2 separate regions of the Homo sapiens genome follow, and region 2 is linked to region 1. Evidence: fine-mapped expression QTL. A gene starts in region 1. The other region holds a variant in brackets. All regions are shown on one strand. Distances are from middle to middle. Region 1 holds the start of ARID3C (AT-rich interaction domain 3C). Region 2 holds the start of CCL19 (C-C motif chemokine ligand 19).

The links. PIP is the estimated chance that this variant, and not a neighbour inherited with it, causes the effect.
Region 2: its variant is the best candidate, but not a certain one, in a credible set for the expression of ARID3C in cerebellar hemisphere (GTEx, PIP 0.70).

What each region holds. Positions count from the first base shown.
Region 1 is chr9:34,626,865-34,632,234 of GRCh38, forward strand. It overlaps ARID3C (AT-rich interaction domain 3C), which reads right to left and starts at 2,202. Exons shown (of 8, transcript NM_001017363.4): 1 at 2,053-2,202; 2 at 833-1,222. The coding sequence starts at 1,150. RefSeq lists silencers at 2,011-2,110, 2,161-2,320.
Region 2 is chr9:34,688,461-34,693,830 of GRCh38, forward strand. CCL19 (C-C motif chemokine ligand 19) reads right to left here and starts at 2,816. Exons shown (of 4, transcript NM_006274.3): 1 at 2,631-2,816; 2 at 1,750-1,882; 3 at 1,470-1,563; 4 at 1,110-1,379. The coding sequence starts at 2,679. The coding sequence ends at 1,359. It also overlaps a transcript of PHF24 not described here. The variant C/T (reference allele first, on the strand shown) is at 2,354.

The DNA of each region.
Region 1 (5,370 bases):
CTTTTGGAATATACCCAGACCAACACCCTACAAGTACCAGAATAGCACACCTGGAGACACAGCCCTGTGTAACACCTTCATAGTGACAGCCTTGAGTAGTGTCCTTAGAATAACACCCAGAAGGGTTCTCCAGGGAGAAAGAACCTCAGATTAAGGCCCTGTGAATGAAGTCTTGTCATTCTGAGTTGCGGAGGAGCCCTTTAGTCATACTGCGGCTGTAGTGGCCATCCCAGGCTGGGAACTATCATCCGTGGAACTCAGGCCAGGGAGATTTGCATGGGGCCAGGGTTAGGGAGGAGGTGACAGGAAAGAAAGGAAAGGTGTATCAGCCTGCCAAGTGAGTGATAACCTCCATTCTGCTTCCAAAGACAGAGGAAGCAACTGGGTCACCCCCACTGGTCACTGGAATATGACCTTGTGACTTGATGTGTGAGAAGGTAGGCAGGGTGGTGCTGGCATTGGAATCCCCAGCCCCTAGACTGCCTTCCCTACACCTGGCTGGGCATGGTGGCTCATCCCTGTAATCTCAGCACTTTGGGAAGCTGAGGTGGGAGGATTACCTGAAGTCAAGAGTTCGAGACCGGCCTGGGCAATACAAGAAAACCTTGTCTTTACAAAAGAAATTTTAAAAAATTAGCCAGGCATCTGTCTTTCCCTCCCTGTCACTATCCTCCAATCTTCTCTCTGTCTTTCTATAGGTCTCCGTGTCTCTGTGTCTCTTTTCATCTTGCAGAGGGTGGTGGGGGTGGGTGGGCTGCTAATCACCTGGCTGTGCTTTTGCCAGAAGAGAGAGATAGGGAAGAGGGCCGGACATTGAGGGCATAGGTCCTACCTGCTTGAATTGTTCCTCGTAGGTCCACTCGTGGGGATGGAGTCCAGGGGGCTGGCTAGAAGGCGAGCTGGGGCCCTGGGCCCCTGGACGGCTCTCCTCAGCTGCCTCCTCCTCTGCCCCGGCTTCCTCCCGCTTCTCCTCATCTTCTTCAGCATCTTCCTCTTCCTCAGCCCCAACATTCCCCAAGGCCCCCTCAGGGGCCTGTAGGGTCCGGTGGTCAGGCAGGGGAGGCTGCGGTGGCAGCAGCGGGCATGCAGGGGCCAATGGCCCCACCCCCTGGGCCAGCCGAGCTGCCTGCTGCTTCTGCAGGGCCTCCATGACAGCTTCCAGGCGCAGTCCCCCAGCTGAGGGGGTCCCTGGTACCAGGCGGGACCCCGAGGAAAGGGCCGCCTGTGGGGGAGGGAATTATGGGTGCTGGGCCCTACTGCCCCCAGAGCCCCCCAACACAGGGGGAGGTGGTCATGGATTCAGGGAAGTGCAGGGGTCACAAGGAAAGAGGCAGAAAGATGGCTTTCCCAGAGGTGAACAGAAACAGGACCAGACCCGGGGAATCAAATGGCCATTGACTGAGGACTGGAAGAGTGAGCAGATCAGAGAGGGTGACGGGGACCAAGAGACATCGGGAAATGGTGAAGGAAGGGAGAGAGAAAGAAAAGGAGAAGGGGGATGTCCGACAGAGACAATGACAGGGAGATGTGAAAATAGAGATGGAACAGGGTGACAAGGAGAGACAGAAGTGGGGTGACACAGAGACTGAGAGGGACCAAGATGGAGAGAGGCAGAGGTATCAGGCAGAGACAGGGTAGACAGACAGAGATGGAGAGAGATAGAATATTGGGTAGAGAGACAGGGAGGGTAAGAGAGGTAGAGGAGCAACAGATAAAAGACCTAAGTGACAGGTAGCTCAGAGACGGACAGAGACGGAGAGACAGAGGCGGAGATAGACAAATAGACAGGGGTTGAGATATAGGGAAAGACCAAGACAGCAGGAAACGGACAGAAGAGAGAGATTAGAAAGAGACAGTTAAATAGAGAGGGACCGACAGAGACAGGGACGGGAAAAACAGCCGGAGAGAGGGGCAGAGGACAGGGACCAAGGAGTCGCGGGGATGGAGGGCGGTGGGGCAGAGCCTGGGACGGGCACGGGACCGGACGGGCAGGAGGCGGCAGAGTCGCGACGCCCGGCTCCCTCGCTCCGGGCGCCCCGCGGCCGCACTCACCTGCCTGGCGTGGCCCGCTGCCCCTGGCGTCTCCACGGCGCTGCCTTTGCTCCGCCCGCCTCCCAGGCGGCCCTGGCCTCGGCTGGGTCCCGGCGGTGCGCTCCCGCCGCCCTGTGCTCCTCTGGCGGCTGTGCGCTCACTCGCCGCGCTGCTTGCGGCGGCCGCGGGGGCGGGACCCGAGCGGGGCAGGGCGGGCGGGGCGCATGGGGAGAGGCCCCTGTGGGATCTGCCGCTCTCAGCTCCCCAACAGGTGTCTCCCACCTTCTTTCCAGCCAGCTTCGGGGGCAGGGGGCGCTGGAAAGCTGCGGGGGAATCGTGCGAAAATGAGGGCTCTACCGCCACCGGACTCCGGACCAGAGCCCCGCCCAGCCTCACAAGTCGTGCCCCCGACACCCACACTCGGCACTGGGCTTCCACATACAAATAGCCGCATCCACACACCAACACACCTTGTCACAAGTTCAGGCGCATAGCTTCCCAGTCTCACACGTTCCGTGACATGGTCACCACAGTGCCAATGGCCTGGGCACGCTGTGATCAAGAGGGGAATCCCTCTGCAAGATGCTGGGGTGTGCGTGGAGGGTCTGGTCAGAATAGAAGCTTCTCCCTTTGCCTTGAGCACCCCTGCCCTGCCTACGTGCTGTCCCCCACTGCGGGCATGCTGCGGTTTGCACACATGAGTGCACATGGTGGTGGACCCACACCTATGCACTCACACACTCTCAGAGGTCTTTAAGCTGACTGCACACTCACCGCATGCAGATACACAGCCACACACAGTTTTTGTCTCTTTTGACATTCTATTATGGAAATTTTCTTTTCTTTTCTTTTTCTTTCTTTTCTTTTTTTTCTTTTTTGGAGACAGAGTCTCTGTCACCCAGGCTGGAGTGCAGTGGCGCGATCTGGGCTCACTGCAGCCTCCGCCTCCCAGGTTCAAGTGATTCTACTGCCTCAGCCTCCCGAATAGCTGGAATTAGCTGGGATTACAGGCGTCCACCACCAGACCCGGCTAATTTTTGTCTTTTTAGTAGAGATGGGGTTTCACCATTTTGGCTAGGCTGGTCTCGAACTCCTGACCTCAAGTGATCCACCCACCCTGGCCACCCACAGTGCTGGGATTACAGGCATGAGCTACCGTACCCAGCCTGTATTATGAAAATTTTGAAACATAGACAAGTGAATAGTATAATGAACCTCTGGTACTCATCATAGGTTTGTTTCAACAGTGACCGGCACTTCGCCCATGTTCACACACATTCTCCACCTATGTGTGCCTGACTGCCACATCTGTATCTCCAGACCCCCTCAGCCCACTGCTTTGCGCCCTCCCCCTAACTATTCCCAAGACGCTGAAATGCTGTTCCTTATTTGGGGGTTCTGAGTGGCAGGCCTCTCAGAATTTCTGCTCTGAACAGCCTGGACCCCACTCCTCCCGGGAATCCTCATACTTCCTATTTCTTCCTGTGCCCAAGGGGACCACTTACCAAACAGAGGGACACTGTGAGGTGATGCCAAGTGTGTAAGTGAACAGCAGGTGTCTGTAGGGGTGACACTTGGCATAGGTATGAAACTGTGGCACCAGAGACTGTCTTCTGACCTCACACCCCCAGAAGGCAGGAATCCAAACACGACCTTTGTCTCCTCCCTCCTCCCTTGTCCTCTCCCAATCAGTCCACTCCTCTCAGCCTCAGCTTGCTCTGGCTCAAACCACCGGCTCTTCTGACCATGGTGGGTCTGACCATGGTGGGTGCCTCCTCCCTGCTCTCCCTGCCTCCAGCCGCCACCCTTCTCTGCACCCTTCTGTGCCCAGCTTCTACTGCAGCACTAAGTCCTGGTTCTCTATGGCCCATTCCTGGCCACGCTGAGGCTCACCCCATTCATTCCTTTGGCTGCCCCAGTGTCCTCCACCTCAGATTTCAGACCTCTGAGCCCATCAGAACCCCCCAGCCTCCAGAAGCTCCAGTGATCCAATCACTGTCGGTACTGATGCCTCCTCCCCCATGGCTTTGTTTGGTGTGAGTATCCTGGGGCAGAGCCAAGCCTCCTCCTCTGCCCAACCCTCCCTGATGCTGGGAGGGGAGAATCAGTGAATGTGCCAGGCAGACAGACATGCCCTGGAAGTCTACTGGAAGACTGGAGAGCAGAGGGTAGCAATCCACAGAACCCTTGTGCCCTGCTTGCTCCCTTTTCCCCACCACAGCTTCCCCTGGCTGCTCAGAGGAGGTCCATGGACAAAGGTAGGTGGCCAGAGTCTTCCTAGAAAGGTAGGAATTGGCTTGGGGAAATTCCAGTTCTGAGTGTTTGGAGATCGCTTTGTAGGGTTTGGGTTGAATGGTAAGGGGCTGGGCAGTCACTCCCCCAGCTCCCAAATCAATCAAGCAAAGTTAATCCACTTTTGGGGTCTGGGCCAGGAGGGCTACAACTGGGAAGGGCTGAGGGGAAGGAATATGCTTGACTGGGACTTGGTTTATCTCTCTTCATCTGTGAAAAGGAAAGGCTGCCTCTCATACCCGCAGTCTGGTCTTATACCTCACAGAGACGGAGACAGACCTAGACCTTCAGAGACCCATGCTTCATTCATCCAACACATATTTATTATCTATTTTTTTTGCCAGGCACTGTTGGACACAGGAGCAAATAAGACAAAGTCCTTATTATAATGGTACAATTCTAAGTGGGGGAAATATACAGTGTGTCAGATAGTGGTAAGTACCATGGAGAAAAATGTAGCTGGGTTGGGGGGAACATAAAAGGGGGCATTAGTTACCTATTGCTGTGTAACAAATCACCCCATAATTTAGCAGCTTAAAACAAAAACATTTATTTTCTCACAATTCTGTGGGTCTGGATGGTTCTGACTCATTGTCCTCTAAGGTGTTGTAGTAAAAAGGTTGGCCAGGGATGCAGTCATCTGAAGGCTTGACTGGAACTGGAGGATCTACTTCCAAAATGGCTCACTTGCATGGCCCTTGGCAGGGGGCCTGTTCCCCCCGCAATATGGGCCTCTCCATAGGATTGCTTGTATGTCCTCTCAACATGGCAGTTGGTTTCCCCCAGAATGATCCAAGAGAGACTCTTTAGACAGCAATGCTTTTTATGGCCTAGTCCTAGAAGTCACACACTGTTATTTATGCCACATTATTTGTGAAAGTACATAATTAAGTCTAGTCCACTCAAGGGGAAGGAATTTAGGCTTCACCTCTTGAAGGACAGAGCATCAAAAATTTTGTGAAGGTATTTCAAATCACCATGCAAGAGATACTATTATATAAGTGTTGAAGAACTCAGTGAGCAGGAATTGAAGGAGGGGAGGAAGAG
Region 2 (5,370 bases), 62 kb after region 1:
TCTGGGGAGATGTCTCTGGTCTCAGTGTTGCCTTTGAGCCCTGGAGCCCATGTAGACTGTAGGGGTGGTGGTAGGGCTCCTCTATGTGGAATCTCCTGTGCTTCCCTGGCTACTCCTTCTTCCACCCCGTGGGCCTCTCTCCTGTCTCTGACCTCTGACTCCCAGGTCTGTCTGTCGGTGTCCCTGAGAGGCATGGCCCCAGGATTGCAAAGATGGGGCTGGACCTTGCTCAGTTTGGCTGAGAGAGGAAGGCTGGCCTGGAGGTCAGATTCTGTATGGACAGAATGAACAGATGGACCCTCAGCCCTGGCTGCTGAGCCTTTCCTCACATATTTATTCATTCTCTAAACAAATATTTATTGAGGGACTGCCTTGTGCCAAGCAGCATGCTGGACACCACAAAAACAGTGGAACCCAAAATAGATGTGATCCCAGTCCAAGAACATGGACAAATTTGGACAAACCAGCAACTATAAGTCAGGGTGATGAATGCTGTGAGGGGCCACTGCAGGAGGCTACCTAACCCAGCCTGGGGTCAGGGAAGGCTTCCTGGAGGAAGAGGCGTCTGGACCCAGATGGGAAGCCAGGTGGGCAGAGGAGAGAGAAGAGTGTGCCAGACCAAGGGAAGGGCATGGGTGGATGGGTATTTTCCCCCAGGCAGTAGAGCTGGGCCCTTTGCCCCACTCCACCTCCCCCAGCCGTGAGAGCTGGTTCCCCACAACTCCCTTCCCCCCAGTGACACTGGATTCCTTAGACACCTGGATGCTTGAACACCTGCCTTGGAGAGCAAAGAGTGGGAGGCATGAGACGCTGGCTCATTCAGGGAACTGACCCAAGCTTAGTGTCGCTGAACTATGGAAAGCAATGAGGCTGATCCTGAGAGCATCAGGTTGTTAAGTGGAGGTGAGCAAGGAGACCCCCTAGGCCACAGAAGAGAAAATAGATCCTGCCATTCCACCTCCCCCTTCCTATTCCTGTCCACCTGGCTAGACAGCAAACGGACAGCAGACAGATCTATGGGTGCCAGGTGCCTTTTTTTTTTTTTTTAAGGCTAGTTAAGCAGTAGGAGTGGAGAAAGAACAAAGAAATCTGTAACAGGTTGTGATCAATTAGTTGTAAACACCAGGCGGCTTTATTGGTAGCATTGCAATCTGGGGGTGGAGCAGCTTTACTCTGACCACACTCACCCTCTCGCTCACACTCACACTCACACACACCCCAGGCCCTGTCCTGGCTGGTCAGGTCTGGTGCAGAGGAGCTGGAAGCCTGGTCCTTCCTTCTGGTCCTCGGTTCCCCAGGTTAGGTAATAATTCACAATGCTTGACTCGGACTCCGGGCTCCCTCTGCACGGTCATAGGTTAACTGCTGCGGCGCTTCATCTAGAGGAGGAAGGAGAGGAAGGATCATGGGCTGGAATCTTAGACAGGAGCTCAGAGGGAGGAGACAGGGCCAGGGAGGGCCAGGCTTGCCTTGGCTGAGGTCCTCTGCAGTCTCTGGATGATGCGTTCTACCCAGGGCTGGTCTGGGGGTGCACAGAGCTGGCGGCCCCTCAGTGTGGTGAACCTGGGGTGAGAGGCCGGAGAGAATGGAGCCCCAGAATCCAGCATGCCTGGGGACCATGTCTGGGAACCTGTTTCAGGGATTTCCTTGAAGGGGTTGGGCTTGGCATGGAGAAGGGGAATAAGAAGGTGGGAGTCTCAACAGGGGCTAAAACGGGAGATGAGGCTAGACACCCTCCCCACAACTCACACTACAGCAGGCACCCTGCAGCCATCCTTGATGAGAAGGTAGTGGAAGTTCCTCACGATGTACCCAGGGATGGGTTTCTGGGTCACAGACAGGCAGCAGTCTTCAGCATCATTGGTGCCACTCAGAGTTGGGGCTGGGATGGGGAAAGAAGGTGACAGGACACAGGGACCCTTGAGGGTGGCATGGCCATGGCCCTAGCTCGGATTGAGGACACCTGTGTGTGTGTGTGTGTGTGTGTGTGTGTGTGTGTGTGTGTGTGTCTGGTGGGGTCGGGGAGGAGTTAGACCTGGTATTCAGCCATTATGCACCAATATGGCTCTGGCTCTACTGGTTGCTAAATATATTGTCATACTTCTAAACTGTTTTGTAAATAACCACTGCCCTGAGCCCCACAAATGACTTCCTGCTGCCCTGATCACCCCAACCTCTCTCCCAGGACAATCCAGCAAGTAAAGAGTTAATGCAGGTCACAGTGTGGGAGGGGCGTGGGGTAGGGTAGGCTGGTGTTAGGAGCCTTATTAATTGCTAAAATTTTTGAATATCAGCCTTGGCTTAGTGTCTGCCATTCTCCCTACCTTAAGCAAATCTCCTTCTGCCTGGGAAA[C/T]GGAGGCAGCAGGAAATAGAGCTTGCAGAGACAGTCACAGCCATAGGCCCCAGGATGTGCTAAAAGACACACCCGCATTGGGATTCAGGGGCACAGGGACACCCACACTTACAGGCACACATGCAGGGACCTGCCAGGCTCACCGAAATATACAGACCTAAGCATTTGCCTGAACTCACCATGTCCCTTACGTCCAGTGCCAAGCAATCTGAGATCTAGACATTACCCACTGCCAGCCCCCCACTGCCTCTGACCCTGACTCTCCCTTCAGCCTTACCTGGGGAAGTCCAGAGAACCAGCAGGCTGAGGGCCAGTAGCAGGGCCATGGAGGGTGAACAGAGGCAGGCCAACGGTGAATGTGTGAGCGCCAGCTGTCTGGGTGTGTGCAGGATCTGTGTGAGGCTGCAGGGCGACTGGGATGCAGGGGTGAAATGCAAGGTGTGAGTGATGTGAGGCTGGGAATGTGAGCCCTGCAGCTGACTCCTATTTATGGCCAGAGCTTCACTTTCTCTGCCTGAAATTCCCCTTCATGTCCCATTCTGTGATTCCCCTGTTGCCCCCCTCTTTCTGGCAGAATCGCACCCTGCCCCCCTTCTTCCCCCTGCGGTTGCCCTTTCCTTCTGCTTTCCTTGGCTCCTGCTCTGAGAACTTAAGTCTGCAGTCTGGCCCAGTAAAGGGGGCTGTGCACTGTTTCTCCAGAGAGAGGGATTGCCCTGTCATCCCATTGATGGCATTTGCATCATCAACCATGAAGCTGGGGTTCAGAAGTGATGGTCAAAGGTGGGGCCCACAGTGAGGAACTGTGCTCCCTTCCTTAGGTTTATCCCTTGTCCTCACTGGTGCTTCTTTCTTGGGCTGGTGGTGAAGAAGGCTCCCTGGCACCCTCAGGACAACCATGAGATCCTGGGGTGGCCTCCAAGGTCATCACTGTGCCTGCCCACTATGTGGGAACCAGTCCTTCCCTTGGGGCAAGCAGAGCTGAAAGGCCAGGTACCTTGGGAGGAGGCCCAGGACCCCCATCCCACATCTCAGGCCTCTGGGGCTCAGCAAACCCTCCCCTTCCTCTATTTACTGTTTTCCTATGTCCAACACCTGGGTCAAAGGAACAGCTGGAGGGAGACTGGCTTGGAATAGCCCCCTTCATTTTCCCCCTTTTCTCAGTCCTGGGAACCAAGAGGGGATTTCTAAGGAGAGGGGCTGGCCAGCTCATATTCAGACAAATCTTAAAATTTCAAGGAATCGGCCGATGGGGGAGGGGACAAGTGACTTCCCATCCTTATGAGAAAGGTCAGAAGAGAAGGCCTTGAAAGAGAAACTAAATGTGAAACGCCCAGTCACCCGTCGTCACCCAAACCCTAGACCCTCTTTTGGATGGAGAGAGGGAGGGGGAACATTTCCCTCTTAAATTTCTGACTTAGCTTCTTTCCATTCATTAATCATAATAATAGTAATGGTATTTTTGATTGTTTACTATGTGCTAGGCTCTATGTCAAGGACTTTACCACTATTACCTTGCTTAACTTTCCCAAAACAATACCATTGATGTAGTTTTTCTTATTTTCACATTATTATTCTTATTTTACACATAAGGAACATGAGGCTCAGAGCACAAAGCCACACAGCTAGTAAGTACTGGAGCATGATTTGGACCCAGGTGTGCTCTAGGGTTTGCAGTCTTTACCTCCACTCCACACCGCCTGTCTGCCACTTGGTCATGGCACAGCACGGGTAGTCACGGTGCAGAGGAGGGAGACTCTGCAGACAGAGCGCCTAGCTTGGGATTCAGATTCCACCACTTACTAACTGCGACAAGGTGAAAATTCTCCAGTTTCTGTGTCTTAGTGTCCTTATTTGTAAAATGGGAATGGTAGAAGATCTACTTCTTAGGATTAAGTGAGGAACCCTGAGTAAAGCCCTTAGCTTAGAGGCTGACGCACAATAAGCTCTGTTAGCCATTGTTCTTCTTTTGTCCTTTTTTTTTTTTTTTTTTTGAGACAGAGTCTCACTCTGTCACCCAGGCTGGAGTACAATGGCACGATCTTGGCTCAGAGCAACCTCCACCTCCTGGGCTCAAGGGATTCTCCTGCCTCAGCCTCCTGAGTAGCTGGGATTACAGGCACCCACCATCATGCCCGGCTAAATTTGGTATTTTTAGTAGAGGTGAGGTTTCACCTTGTTGGCTAGGCTGGTTTCGAACTCCTGGTTTCGAACTCCTGACTTCAAATGATCTGCTTGCCTCCGCTTCCCAAAGTGTTGGGATTACAGGCGTGAGCCACCGTGCCTGGCCTTCTATCCTTTTATTCAGGTATCTGTTCATTAATTCATCCATCCACCCCTCTTTCCATTGATCTATCCATTCTTCTGTCCATGATGGTTCTGGTTATTCTGTTTGCCCCAGCCTATCCATTCTCCACTCTTCACGGCCCTGCTCTGCTCCCTGGAAGGCTGACCTCTGCAGATAGCATTACTTAGGGTCACCTGCTTTCTGGCTTCTGTTTGGGGCTGGCCCATGGGAAGCAGCAACTGATCAGTGGTGGAAGGAGAGAGGGGTATTAATTCCCCAAATCCTTCATCTTGCTGCAGTTCTGGCAGTGAATAATTTCCCCTGTGGCAGTTGTTCTCAAAGAGTAGCCTTTGGGCAGCAGCAGCAGCATCACTTGGGAGCTTGTTAGAAACACGAATTCTTAGATTTTACTTCCCACTTACCACATCTGAGACTCTGAGGATGGGGTCCAGCAAACTGCATTTTCACATACCCTCCAAGTGACTCTGATATGTGCTAAAGTTTGAGATCCAAACGAGCCTCAGGGATACCATCAAATATACCTCATCACAGGAGTCTCAGGAGGAGAATAGAGAGAACAGGGCATTAAAAAAATTGAAGAAATAATGACAAAACATCTGAAATCTGATGAAAAGTATGTATATACATATCCAAGAAGTTCATTACGCCTGGCCTGCTATGTTGTTATGTTTATCAGAGATCTTTGTTTCTTTGTGTGGCTGTAAGTTATTAC